Homo sapiens: one gene and its partners. The protein of the gene in region 1 purifies or fractionates together with the protein of each later gene. This does not show direct contact. Each region holds a gene or a part of one and is shown in the gene's direction. Other genes may lie near its edges.

Region 1 (3,500 bases):
ATATATATATATATCTCCTTATTACAAAAAGAAGCTTTTTCACTGCTATATCTGTAAGTTTTTAATGCCTTTCTAGAGGTGTGTTTTGCTCCTTCAAGTAGAAAGCTTAGAACTCTGATTTTTTAAAAATAAGCAATGATTGAGAGTAATTAAAAGGTTTGCATAATCACTGTGGTAAAGTTTAAAGCCAACAAATAGTTGATGAGCTAAAGTTAGTCTTGGAGAAAGATAAACTAGTTGTAAACTAAACATGAGTTTGCAGTAGAATAGAAAAGGATGAACTAGAAAAAGAGGAAAAATGTAGAGAAAGGGATAGGATGATATGGAGGTCAGAGAGAGAGAGAACGAGATCTATGAAAAGGAATTGCTGAATTGTGGAGAAAAGACCATATTGTACAGAGTATAATGCACCATATGAAACCAAATAATCTATATCACAATACTCACACCACTTTTTCAAGTATCTACTATGTGCACGGCACATAGATCATTTTTTGAAGAATAGATTTTATCTTTCTGAACAGCTTTCAATTCACTGAAAAATTGATATACGGTACAGAGAGTTCCTATATACTCCATATCTAATTTCCCTTCTTAATATCTTACAGTAGTATGGGACATGGGTTACAATGAACTAATATTGATACATTATTATTAACTAAAGTCTGTAGTTTATTCAGATTTCCTTAGTTTTTAGCCAAAGTTATTTTTTTCTGTTCTTAAATCATTTTTTAAATCTCCTAACTCTAACAATGTACAAATTGCCATCCTCGTTTTTAAAAAACTGAGACTTGGAAATTTTGTTATTTGCCTAAAGCACCACGTAGATGGGTAAAAGATGGCAATTGAAGTGTGAAACATTCTGATTCCAAATCCTATCTTTTTAATATGAGATACTGGCTAGAAATAGTCTAGGATAAAAAGAGCCCTAGAATCCTAACAACATGTCAGGTGTACTTCTTTACCCAGAGTTATTTCTCTCTGAATTGAGAGAGGTCCTCCTTTCTTCCCCTGTACACCCATCAAATATAGTCACTATGGGCAAAGTGGATGCTTAAGTATAACTTCTTAAAGAATATGAAGGAGAGGGATGGGCTTTTAGTGGGTAAATTTAACACTAGACTGTATCAACTTTACTATGTCGTTTAAACTGAAAGGAAAAAGATTTTAGCTCGGAAGAACACTTCCGAAGGAACAGAAGGAGACAGTACCATCATTTGGATAATTTTGGTAATTACTTTGGTTTCACTTTTACTGAGAAAAAGAGCATTCCAACAATCTTCCTAATTAAAGAGGGGACTTTAAACAGACTATCTGAAAAAACATTTTATTATTTACCGATATATTATGTTACATTACTGTGAATTGAAATATAACATGGCGAAATAATTTATGACCAAAACAAAAATCTCCCCACCAGAATGTAACAATGTATGTTTCAGTAGCTCAGAAATGACAGTTTGGAAAGCAGTTCTTTGCTTTTTCTTCTTCTTTTGTCAGAATGGTAAAGTGAATACCTAGAAGTTGGCATGGCAAAGCTATACCATATGTTTCTAAACTATGTAGTAACGGTGATGGGTGGCTACCTTGTGTGAACTAGCTACTTATAGTGAGGGAATGTAAAAGCAGGCACTGTTAGCAATTCATGTAATATTTAGATTGACATGACCATTTTTTAAATGATGTAGGAATTATTCTAATAGTTTAAAATGAGCATTGTGTCTACATACATAGGTATAGTGTACATGTGTGTCTGTGCATGATGGGGGAAAAGGGTAATCCTTAAAACTGTCTATTACACAGCAATTCCTATTTCATTCAAGAGGACAAATGTCTTGTAAGTTCAAGCTACTCATTTCTGTATGATTCAGCTTGTATCTGCCCATGAAATGATGGCTAATGTTGAGTCATAGCCATAGAAATTCTTTCCTTATTCATTTACTTGGGCTTATTTGGGCAAGACTAAAAAGCCATACCTTACATAAAAAGACCTAGTGCTAGCTAACTATATATGTGTGTGAGAGAGAGCGCAAGTATGTGTGTGTTTTGAATCAATAATAAAGTTGTCTACTCAGATATATTTTGAGGCACTTTGGTCTACTCAAAATTCTTAAGGTTTGCTTTGTTAGTGCAATATATGACTTGCAGTCTAAAAAAAAATTCTACCTTTTGAGAGAACAAAGTGACGATTAAACCAATTTTTCTTTAAACAGAATTGTTTCTCTTCATCAGGGGAAGAACTGAATTATTTAAATGGGCTTGTTGGCATTCTCCCCTCCCCATTTTCCTTGGTACATTGGGAAGCCGCTGTTATGCACTGATAGCAGAGACTTTCTGAAGATGCGGAATACCATGAAAGGTTCTTGCCTCATTACACCCCTAGCATAGGCTTATGATTCCCTAAAACTGGACCGAAGAACAAAGGAAATTAAATGTTTCATTCCTGAAGAATTGCACTGAGTAAAATGATAAAAGTCAAATGACTTAGGGATCTTCCCACTGCAAAAGCAAATTTAATAAACAATCGTAAGCTATCATGTTGAAATATAACCAGCATCTGTGATTTGGGGACAGGTGTCTATAAAACTTAAGCTGGAATGATGAGAGTTCTAACCTAGAAATAAGTTCTAAATAACTGACCAGTTACTCATTGCACCAAGCGCTCACCCAGGCTTGATGGCAGAAGAAATTGGTACTTGTGAGATGTGGTTCCTGAACTGGGGGAGCTTCTAGTTTGGAAGATAACATATATGTCAAATAAGCTGAATAAGAAAGTTTTAGTTGTAAGACGCTGATTAGAAGTACTAAAGTGGGGAAGGAAGAAAGAAGAGTGCATGCACACACAGGATTGGATACAGTAGTAGAAAAAAATCTTCATAGAGAAAGTAGACTAGGGTTAGGTCTTTAAAAGTTAATTTCATTTGAGTAAGCATAGGAAAAACAGGTATTGCAGTCTGGAGAAGAACACTAGGTAGCAGAAATGTGGAAAAGAGTCACTGTTAGGCAATGTCAGTCAGATTCTGTTGGTTCTAAGTGACAGAAACCCAGCACAAGTGGCTAAATCAAAAAAGAGGTTGAGTGACTTACTGGTTCATGTAAGTGAAGAGACTGGTACAGAAGTGACTGCAGGAATGGCTGGATCTAGGAGGCTAAATGACTTCCATATCAGAATGAAAAAAGCTAGATGATGAAGGGAAAGGATATACAGATTTAGCTTCCATAATCCAAAAACATAATATCTGAAATGCTCTAAAATCTTTTTGATCATGACATGATGCTCAATAGAAATGCTCATTGAAGCACTTTGGATTTCAGATTTTTGGATTAGGGATGCTCAACCAGTATGACATAAATATTCTAAAATCCTTTAAAAATTCAAAACACTTCTGCTCTCAAGCACTGAGGATAAGGAATACTCAACCTATATTTTGAAACCTGTGTTTTAGCTCAAACCCTGCCACTAATGAACAACTGATTGTAGGCAAGACTCTGGGATAATT
Region 2 (3,500 bases), on another chromosome or scaffold:
CTCCATCAACTGGTCATCCCCATCTCTTTCCCTCTCTTTGGGCCTTCCTATTTCCTAAGACCCAATAATCACGAAATTAGGCCAGTTAATAACCCTACAATGGCCTCTAAATATGTTCAAGTGAAAGGAAGGGTAGCACAACTCTAACTTTAAACAAAAGCTTGAAGTGATTAGGTGTACAGAGAGAAGCATGTTGAAAGCCAAGATAGGACAAAAGATAAGCCTCTTTGCCAAACAGCCAAGTTGTGTTAAAGGAAAGTTCTTGAAGGAAATTTAAAGTGCTACTCCAGTGAACATATAAATGATATGAAAGTGAAACAGCTTTCTGGCTGATGCGGAGAAAGTTTTTGTGATCTGGATAGATGAAACCAGCCACAACATTCCCTTAAGCAAAAGCCTAACCTCCCTTCAGTTCTGTGAAGGCTGAGAGAGGTGAGGAAGCTACAGAAGAAACGTTTGAAGCTAGCAGAAGTTGCTTCATGAAGTTTAAGGAAAGAAGCTGTCTTTCCATTCCATTAAAGTGCAAGGTGAAGCAGGAAGTGCTGATGGAGAAGGTACAGCAAGTTACCCAGAAGATCTAGCTAAGATCATTGATGAAGATGGTTACACTAAACAACAGATTTTCAGTGTAGATGAAACTGCCTTCTATTGAAAGAAGATGCCACCAAGGACTTTCATAGCTAGAGAAGAGAAGTCAATGCCTGGCTTCAAAGCTGCAAAGGACAAGTTAACTCTCCCTTTAGGGCTAATTCAGCTGGTGATGGTAAGCAGAAGCTCATTTACCATTCTAAAAATCCTAGGGCCCTTAAGAATTATGCTGAATCTACTCTGCCTGTGCTCTGTAAACGGAAAAACAAAGCCTGGATGACAGCATATCTGTTTATAGCTCAGTTTACTGAATACTTTAAGCCCACTGTTGAAACCTGCTCAGAAAAAAAAAAAATTTCTTTCAAAATATTACTGCTCATTGATGATGCACCTAGTCAGCCAAGAGTTCTGATGAAGACGTATAAGGAGGTTAATGTTTTTATGCCTGCTAACACATCTACTCTGCAACCCATGGGCAAAGGAGTAATTCAGCTTTCAAGCCTTATTATTTAAGAAATACATTTCATAAGACTATAGCTGCCATATAGATAGCGATTCCTCTGATGGATCTGGGAAAGTAAATGAAAACCTTCTGGAAAGGATTCACCATTGTAGATGTATTTGTAGGCCAGGCACGGTGGCTCGTACCTGTAATCCCAGTACTTTGGGAGGCCAAAGCGGCAGATTGCTTGAGCCCCAGGAGTTCGAGACCAGCCTGGGCAACATGGTGAAACCCAATCTCTACAAAAAATACAAAAATTAGCTGAGCATGGTGGTGCGTGCCTATATTCCCAGCTATTTGGGAGGCTGAGATTGGCGGATCACCTGAGCCTAGGGAGGTTGAGGCTGTAGTGAGCCACGACCATGCCAGTGAACTCCTTCCTGGGCAACACCGTGAGACCCTGTCTGGGGCGGATGGTGGGAGAGGAACATTTGTGATTGGCCAGGCATGGTGTTATGTTCCTGTAATTTCAGCTACTCAGGAGGCTGAGGCAGGAGTACTGCATGAGCCCAGGAGGTTGAGGCTGCAGTGAGCCATGATCACACCACTGCACTCCAGCCTGGGTGACAGAGGGAGATCCTGTCTTAAAGAAAAGAAAAACAAAAAAGAACATTTGGGTCCGGGCATGGTGGCTTACACCTGTAATCCCAGCACTTTGGGGGGCCAAGATGAGTGGATCTCTTGAGCTCAGTAGTTCGAGATTAGGTTGGGCAACATGGTGAAACCCCATCTGTACCAAAAGTACAAAAAAATTAGTCGGGCCTGGTGGCACACACCTGTGGTCGCAGCTATTCGGGAGGCTGAGGTTGGAGGGAGGATCACTTGAGCCTGCGAGGCAGAGGTTGCAGTGAGCCAAGATCGTGCCACTGTGCTCCAGCCTGAGTGAGAGAGTGAGACCCCAACAAAAAAATACACAAAAAACATTTGTGATTCATGGAAGGAGGTCAAAATATCAACATTAAATAACAGGAGTATGGAAGGCATTGAATCCAGCCCTCATGGATGAGTTTGAAGGGTTCAAGACTTTAGTGGGGGAAGTACTTGCAGATGTGATGGAAACAGCAAGATAACTAGAATTAGAAATGGAGCCTGAAGATGTGACTGAACTGGTGTCACTCATGAGGAGTTTGCTTTATAGACAAGCAAAGAAAGCAGTTTCTTGAGATGGAATCTACTCCTGGTGAAGATGCTGTGAACATTGTTGAAATGCCAGCAAAGGATATGGAATATTACTTAAGCTTAGTTGATAAAGCAGCAGCTGGGTTTGAGAGAACTGACTTCAGTTATCTTATTTTAAGAAATTAGCATAGCCATCACAACCTTCAGCAGGCAACACCCTGATCAGTCAGCAGCCATCAGCATCAAGGAAAGACCCTCCACCACCAGAAAGATGACTTGCTGAAGGCTCAAGTGATTAACATTTTTAGCAATAAAATATTTTTAAATTAAGGTATGTATATTGGTTTTTTAGACATAATGCTGTTGCACACTTAATAAGTGACAGTGGTATAGTGTAAACATAACTTTTATATCCACTGGAAAACCAAAAAATTTGTGATTTTATTGTGATACCTGCTTTATTGTGGTGGTCTGAAATGAAACCCACAGTATCTTTGAGGTATGCCTGTATGTGCTTTTACTTCTGAAGTCCAGCCAACATTATTTCTCCTTCCTTTCTGTCTTCCTGCCATGTCTTCTGTACTTTTGGAAACTATGCACTTGTGCAGACATTGTGCTCAATACTTTGTTTCTTCAGATGCCATCATTAATGAGAACTATGACTACCTGAAGGGGTTCTTGGAAGACCTGGCACCTCCAGAGCGCAGCAGCCTAATTCAGGATTGGGAAACATCTGGGCTTGTTTACCTGGACTATATTAGAGTCATTGAAATGCTCCGCCATATACAGCAGGTACCTGAGATCCTGAAACTGCTGCCTGATTTTCCTTTTCTCAGGCCCTTAAATCTTCAGATACCTCACAAGGCCTTAGTATACACTTGAGAATGCACTGACAGAGATAGCACTGTCAAAGCAGGCATCTTGCTGAGGCTCATTTGATATAACCGTTTCTGACAGCTATATCGAAACTTAAAAATGCTATTTTATGTTGATTACCAACTAGTATGTGCAATAGACATTCCTGAGGCTTGTCCATAGACAGTCTCTTCCCCTTGTTCAGTCCTAGTTTGAGTGAGAAGCCCAAAGATGAGAGATAAAATAAGAATGGAGATTTGGTGAGGGTGAGGATAGCTGTTTTACACATCATTTGGCATGTTTTAAAATTGCAAATATGGGTTTTAAAGTCAATGTCTTCGGTCAGTTTTTTTTTTTTTTTTTTTTTTGGAACAGAGTCTTGCTCTGTCATCCAGGCTGGAGTGCAGTGGTGTGATCGTGGCTCACTGCAACCTCT
Region 3 (3,500 bases), on another chromosome or scaffold:
CTAGCATTCCTAGAAATAAGAGACTTCACTCAATTACATGCCTGTTATAGCATCTGAATATGTATCACATATGTACCAAATTGCCCTAAAAGCTGTTAAAATTTAAGAGAGGGTAATCCCATTTGAAAATGCAACCACCATTTTGTTTCAGTAGAGCAGACAGAACCATAAATCAAATTTAAAACCAGATAATTCAGTCACCTCCCTGATTTGGTCAAAATTAGTTGCTTTCTTTTGACAACTATGAAATCAAGTTGAAAAAGAAACTTCACTTTGTGACCTAAGGCCTAACTCACTGATGGACTTTCTCTGAAGATAAATTAAGAGATGGGGCAGTTTCTGTTAAATATTAACATTATGATCTGAAAACTATTGAAACTCTACAGGAAGATGGCTGTTTTTCCCCTAGACTTTCAAGATAGAGAATGGGGTAGGAGAACCACTAGAATTATCAACGTTTAATGTTAATTTTTTATTTTCTTAGAGGAATTATAATTATTTGCTGCCCACACAAAGGAATTTTCCTCTATTTTCTTTTACATAGATCCATTTGAACCACAGCGACGTCTCCCCGCGAAGAAAAGTCGACAACAACTTCAGCGAGAAAAAGCCCTTGTAGAGCAAAGCCAAAAACTTGGGCTTCAAGATGGATCAACCTCATTACTTCCAGAGCAGCTGCTTTCAGCACCAAAACAGAGAGTTAACGTTCAAAAACCACCTTTTTCTTCCCCTACTCTTCCGAGTCATTTCACTCTCACCTCCCCCGTTGGTGATGGACAACCACAGGGCATTGAAAGTCAGCCAAAGGAACTGGGACTTGAGAATTCCCATGATGGTCACAACAATGTTGAGATTCTACCTCCAAAGCCAGATTGCAAATTGGAGAAAAAGAAAGTGGAATTGTTAGTAAGTCTATGTGAAAAGTCCATGAGACTTTTCATTTAACCCGTTTTTTCCCAATGGGCTTTAAGGAAATATAATTTGTTTATTTTAACATTTTCTCTCCTTTATATTCATTCAATCATAGGAATGTGATGTATAAACTATTGAAAAATAGCTACTGCCTAAATATAAGCTGGACACAGGCATTCTGTATGTTTTATGTTCTTTAGTCTTCATAACAGCCTTACAATGCATGTTTATTATTTAAACTTTATACATGAGGTATCTGGGACTCAGAAAAGATGATACCTTTCTAAAGCTAATACACTGCTAGTAAATAGTAGAGATTTACAGATAAGTCTGTCTGGATCCAAAGTTTATGCCTTTTACACTGAGCAGAAGCAGTTCTTTTTTTCTTTCTTTTTTTTTTTTTTTTGAGATGGAGTCTCGCTCTGTTGCCCAGGCTGGAGTGCAATGGCGCAATCACAGCTCAGAAGCAGTTCTTATATGCATAGTGCCTCTGCCCAAATTGACCCCTTTTTTCAACTTCCAGACTATTTCCATTGGCCCAGAAATTGGAACTTGTGGAGAGACGTGAAGGGATGGTCAAAGGAGAGAGTGTAGGAAATTTAGGGGACTAATGATATAACTCAGTTCATCATTAGATTTCTTTTTATTTATTCTTTACTGTCTTTGTATTAGAAACAACCTTCATAATTTAGCTACACTGTTCTTGTGGAAGATGCCATTTTTTGATTTGCAAATTCTTAGAATTTTTTATTTGATAGCTTGTGTTTTAATATATACTCTTATTTCTTTGTTTGCTCCTGATTTATCTCTCACAGAGAAGGAATGACATTTTTCTGTTTTCTCTTTTCTGAGTTCTTTTCAAAGTATCTTTTTTTTTTTCTAATCTCTGACATCTTTTTAATCTCTGCTGATCCAGATTCTATCCTGTGAATTTAAAATGTTTCCTGTCCACTAGGGGTTTACAACTAAGAAATCATTTTGACAAGAGTTATAAAACCACATGAATTATGAAACCTATATTGAACAAGTGCATACATTAAAGTGTCTCTAAGTGTAGTTTACTAACAAAGGCCGGAGACAAATAGGAGGTAAGTTTACATTGAGCTGGACAATTTGGATTGGATGTTATAGGGAAACTTATTCTTTTTTTGGATACTTGGAAGAATTTTCATAAAAGACCTGTAACCTCAAACCATTCACGTAAAGGAGAAATTTTGAGGTTTTAAGGAGGAGAAAGGAAAGCTGTGTCCTAGAGAATGTTCAGAGATGATACCTCATTTCTCTGGGAGAGGTGGCAAAGGATAAGCCAGAGAACAGTAGAGAATTAAAGAAATGAGGAAGGAGGACAGGCGTGGTGGCCCACACCTATAATCCCAGCACTTTGGGAGGCTGAGGCAGGCACATCACTTGAGGCCAAGAGTTGAAACCAGCTTGGCCAACATGGGGAAACCCTGTCTCTACCAAAAATACAAAAAAATTAGCTGGGCGTGGTGGTGCATGCCTGTAGTCCCAGCTACTTGGGAGACTGAGGCACAAGAATTGCTTGAACCTGGGAGGTGGACGTTGCAGTGAGCCAAGATCATGCCACTGCATTCCAGCCTGGGCAACAGAGCAAGATTCTGTCCCAAAAAAAAAAAAAAAAAAAAAAAGCAGAACTGAGGAAGGATCAGAAGCAGAAGCAGGGGATGAATAAGTAGAGAATTAAAGAAATGAGAAAGGATCGGAAGCAGGGGATGCCTTCCTTCCTAGCAAGTTCACTAATGCAGCAAGTTACCATGAAGCTCTCTGAGGGCTAAAGGCCGCAATCAAAATAAAGGTTAGAGAAATCCCAGGTGTCAATATTGTAGATCATATGCAAGAGAGTGCATAGTGAGCTGTGGAACTAAGGCGCCTGGTGAGGAGATGCCTGCAGTAGTAAAAGTGAGAAATGACCAGTCCCAGCACTAAGGTGGAAGGTGTAGAAATGGAGAGAGAAGGACAATTTTGGAAGGGGCTACTAGATTTGGGAATAGAGGTATGTGATATAATGGCTGTAAGAAGTGACAGTAATAGGAATAAATAGCTTTGCCAATACCTTGTTTAATTTGAGTTGACATCAAGCTCATGACTTTATGGGAAATTTTAATGTATTTATTTTAGAATTGGACAGATTGTAAGACAATACATGTTTTCACATCTTTGAATTTTTTTCTTTAGCCCAGCATTCCAGTCTTAGCTCTTAGTGTTTTACTTTGTTTAAAAATGTCCAAGTTGGGCTGGGCACAGTGGCTCACACCTGTAATCCCAGCACTTAGGGAGGCAGAGGCGGGAGGATAGCTTGAGCCTAGGAGTTCGAGACCTGACTGGGTAATATAGCGACACCCTGTTCTCCACAAAAAGGAAAAAAGAAAGACAAAAAAAAGTCTTAAGAGTTGGGAAAAAGTGAGCAAATTGAAAGAAAATATTAATATATGAAATAAACATTGGTTATTGTCTGAAACATGTTAAGGTGGTGGAGACTTTATAGAAAACTCTAAAAGGTATAAATAATATGACATCAGCTACAAACCAATTTTTATTAATCTCCATTCTGCATATAATACATAATT
Region 4 (3,500 bases), on another chromosome or scaffold:
TTATGGAGACGGGGTCTCACTATAGTGCCCCAGCTAGTCTCAAACTCCTGGGCTCAAATTACAAATTATACCAGGTAAATTTATCAAAATGTATGACTTAGAATACATTTTTGTTTTGCTTCTTTTTGACTATATTTGATTTTTAATAGTTTTTAAAAATCTTATTTTAGCTGTAATAAGTGCTATTTATAGGTTTATTTGAGGGCTGTGACCCATGTAATTAGGTGTTTATGAAGTTAAGCCAGAAGGTATATAACATATATATTTTAGTGCTTACAAAGATATTTCTTTAGTAATAGAGGGAATCCCTACTTGGTTATACTTTTTTTTTATTTTAGAAAGAATGTTATAGGTTCTGAGGCCAACATACATACAAAAAACTTACATGTAACCTATACTATACATTGTGATAGAGAAGATAGAGTATTGCAATATCTAGTCATTGTATAGCATTTTAGTAGAAAAATGAATGCACTAATTTAAGATGCTGGAAACACATCTCCTTTCCTTCTTAACTCTTTTTGGTAGGGAATTCTTTTCCCAATTTTTTTCTTTGCTTAGTATAAGCTGAGATTATCTCCTGTTCCAAGTCATGGGAGGAATGCCAGGGTCCTGAAGCAGGATTTTTTTTATATAAAGTTGGTTTCTCCAAACATCAAACCTAGAAACTGTAAAATAAGGATTAATATATTTGATTCTGTAAAATAAAAAAAAGCTTAAAAAAACAGACACACACCAAAAAAAAAAACCTCACCATAAACTAAATCAAAACACACTAAAAACTAAGGGAACTGTTTGCCAGATTATATGTCTAAGGGCTAATTTCCTTTTTTTCTTTTTTTTGAGATAGACTATCATTCTGTCACCCAGGCTGGAGTGTGGTGGTGCAATCATGGCTCCGAATAGCCTCGACCTCCCGAGCTCAAGCAATCCTCCCACCTCAGCCTCCTGAGTAGCTGGGACCACAGGTGTGTGCTACCATGCCCACCTAATTTTTTTTCTTTTTTTCTTTTTTTTTTTTTTTTTTTTGAGACGGAATCTCATTTAGTCGCCCAGGCTGGAGTGCAGTGGCACGATCTTGGCTCACTGCAACCTCTGCCTCCTGGGTTCATGCAGTTTCCGGCTAATTTTTGTATTTTTAGTAGAGATAGGGTTTCAGCATGTTGGCCAGGCTGTTCTTGAACTCCTGACCTCAAGTGACCTGCCCGCCTCAGCCTTCCAAACTATTAAGATTACAGGCGTGAGCCACTGTGCCCAACCATTTTTTTTTTTTTCTCTTTAGAGATGTGTCTCACCATGTTGTCCAGTCTGGCCTTGAACTCCTGGCCTCAAGTAATCCTGCCTCAGCCTCCCAGAGTGCTGGGATTACAGGCGTGAGTCACCATGGCCAACCCTAATTTCTTAATTTACAAAGAGCCCTTATAAATTAGAAAAGGGTGAACAGCACAATGGCAAAATGAACAAAAGGCTGTTAACAGAAAATTCAAAGTTCGAATGGACGTATGCTATTGTCTCATCACCTGCAAAGTGAGGCACCATGAAGGTGAGCCTCTTGCCAGGGCTGAGTTTTTGCTCTATTTCTCCCTACCTCCTTGATGACTTTTTTCCCTCAGATTCTTTCACATACTCTCCTAGTTTCCATCTAGGTTATGCTTTTTCCTCTGACTTGCAGAAACATTGTAATCACACAAATTTTCTCTTCCTGAAGTAGCACAGAGCTCTTTTGAGGTTTTCCAAGTGTGTTTATTACTTATAAAAAAGGAAAAACAGATGGTGAGCCAAAGGTTCCATCTTAGCCTCTGCCCACCTTGTTTTTAAATATAGATCCTGTAAAAAGAGATTAAAACTTCACACAATTGTGGGGTTTTGTTTACACAAAAGACTTAAGTAACATTTTCTGAGGCTTTCATTCCCAGTCTCCTCCAAGAATTAGAATTGGTGTTGTAACTCTGGATTTGTAAGATAAGGTAGACAAGGGCTGAGGAGAGTATAAATACCGCCAGTAGGAGTTGCCCTCTAATAGTGATAGATGTGTTCATTTTTTCTTCTCCCCTTGGTATGAGTAGTCTTTTAGTTAAAAACCTTCTCACTCCCCATTCAACCTTGTCTGTTGAGTCCCAGGTGAAGGACATTTGGGCCCAGGTGGTACTAGCAATCATAGGGGCTTTGAATAATAATAGTAAGTACTCAGTTATTTTTGTGTCCAGATACTGTGCATTATTTTACATGCATTGTATGTGTTTTCTCTTTTAAGTTTCTCAACCACATCATGAAATCCTTATGTAGACTATTGTTCTTATTTTATATATATAGAAAATTGAGGCCAGGTGTGGTTGGCTCACACTGTAATCCCAGCACTTTGTGAGGCCGAGGCAGGCGGATCACTTGATGTCAGGAGTTTGAGACCAGCCTGACCAACGTGGAGAAACCCCTTCTCTACTAAAAATACAAAATTAGCCGGGTGTGGTGGCACATGCCTGTAATCCCAGCTACTCGGGAGGCTGAGGCAGGAGAATCACTTTAACCTGGGAGGGAGGTTGCGGTGAGCCGAGATAGCGCCATTGCACTCCAGCCTGGGCAACAAGAGCGAAACTCCATCTCAAAAAAAAAAAAGAAAGAAAATTGAAGTGCATAAAGTTTAAATAACTAGTCCAAGGTAAGATTATCACCCACTCTAGAACCAGAGCTCTCACTCAGGATGTTTGATTGGGAAGATAAAGTTCAAGATAGCAATAAGTCTGGTGGACAGTAGGTCTGGGGCAAAACAGGGTGGGACAGCCAATGATAAAGTCAGAGAAGCAGAAATGGACTTCATGATTCCTTAGATCGATTCCTGGGATCTTGGTACCAGTTGGTCTTTATACAGACTCCGGTTTTTAGCTCTCTGTACTTTATCTTATGTCTCCTGAAGTGTCTGACACTTCTAGTTTCAGAGTCTCTTTGGGGCACTAAGGTGAATCAGCTGGCCTTTCCCATTGTAGTTTATTAAATATATTCTTGGATTTTTTCAGTCATTAGTAACTTCTGTTTCTACTGCTACTACCCTAGTTCAGGCCTTTATCTCTCACCTGGACTACCTTAGTAGCCTTCAAAATGGTCTCTTGTCTTACCCTATTCTCATCTTTCAAGCAATTAATGTAAAAGTTTTATTATCAATTTTTGAGGGGGGAGATATTTCAGCCTAGTAAGCTTGCTGAGCTTCTTAAATATAAATAGTGAATTCTGAATGGAAGATGCCTTCTTTTACTAGTTAATTTTTTTTTTCCAGACAGTGTTTCATTCTTGTTGCCCAGGCTGGAGTGCAATGGTGTGGTCTTGGCTCACTGCAACCTCCACCTCCTGGGTTCAAGCTATTCTCCTGCCTCAGCATCCCAAGTACCTGAGATTACAGACACCTGCCCCCATGCCCAGCTAATTGTTTTGTATTTTTAGTAGAGACAGGGTTTTACCATGTTGGCCAGGCTGGTCTTGAACTCCTGACCTCAGGCGATCAGCCCACC

What was found. Proteins that work in one complex are often made in the same cells at the same time.
Region 2: the proteins of CADPS (region 1) and NUP98 purify together in Homo sapiens (affinity purification with mass spectrometry; one large-scale study listed by BioGRID and IntAct). This does not show direct contact.
Region 3: the proteins of CADPS (region 1) and GORAB purify together in Homo sapiens (affinity purification with mass spectrometry; one large-scale study listed by BioGRID and IntAct). This does not show direct contact.
Region 4: the proteins of CADPS (region 1) and MINDY2 purify together in Homo sapiens (affinity purification with mass spectrometry; one large-scale study listed by BioGRID and IntAct). This does not show direct contact.

Annotation. Positions count from the first base shown.
Region 1 is NC_000003.12:62,868,917-62,872,416, reverse strand, and holds part of CADPS (calcium-dependent secretion activator 1), read left to right. Parts: intron 1-3,500.
Region 2 is NC_000011.10:3,679,055-3,682,554, reverse strand, and holds part of NUP98 (nuclear pore complex protein Nup98-Nup96 isoform 1 precursor), read left to right. Parts: intron 1-2,846; coding exon 2,847-3,001; intron 3,002-3,500. UniProt on the Homo sapiens protein: Plays a role in the nuclear pore complex (NPC) assembly and/or maintenance. NUP98 and NUP96 are involved in the bidirectional transport across the NPC. May anchor NUP153 and TPR to the NPC.
Region 3 is NC_000001.11:170,538,666-170,542,165, forward strand, and holds part of GORAB (RAB6-interacting golgin), read left to right. Parts: intron 1-544; coding exon 545-902; exon of another isoform or gene 903-906; intron 907-3,500.
Region 4 is NC_000015.10:58,777,802-58,781,301, forward strand, and holds part of MINDY2 (ubiquitin carboxyl-terminal hydrolase MINDY-2), read left to right. Parts: intron 1-3,500. UniProt on the Homo sapiens protein: Hydrolase that can remove 'Lys-48'-linked conjugated ubiquitin from proteins. Binds to polyubiquitin chains of different linkage types, including 'Lys-6', 'Lys-11', 'Lys-29', 'Lys-33', 'Lys-48' and 'Lys-63'.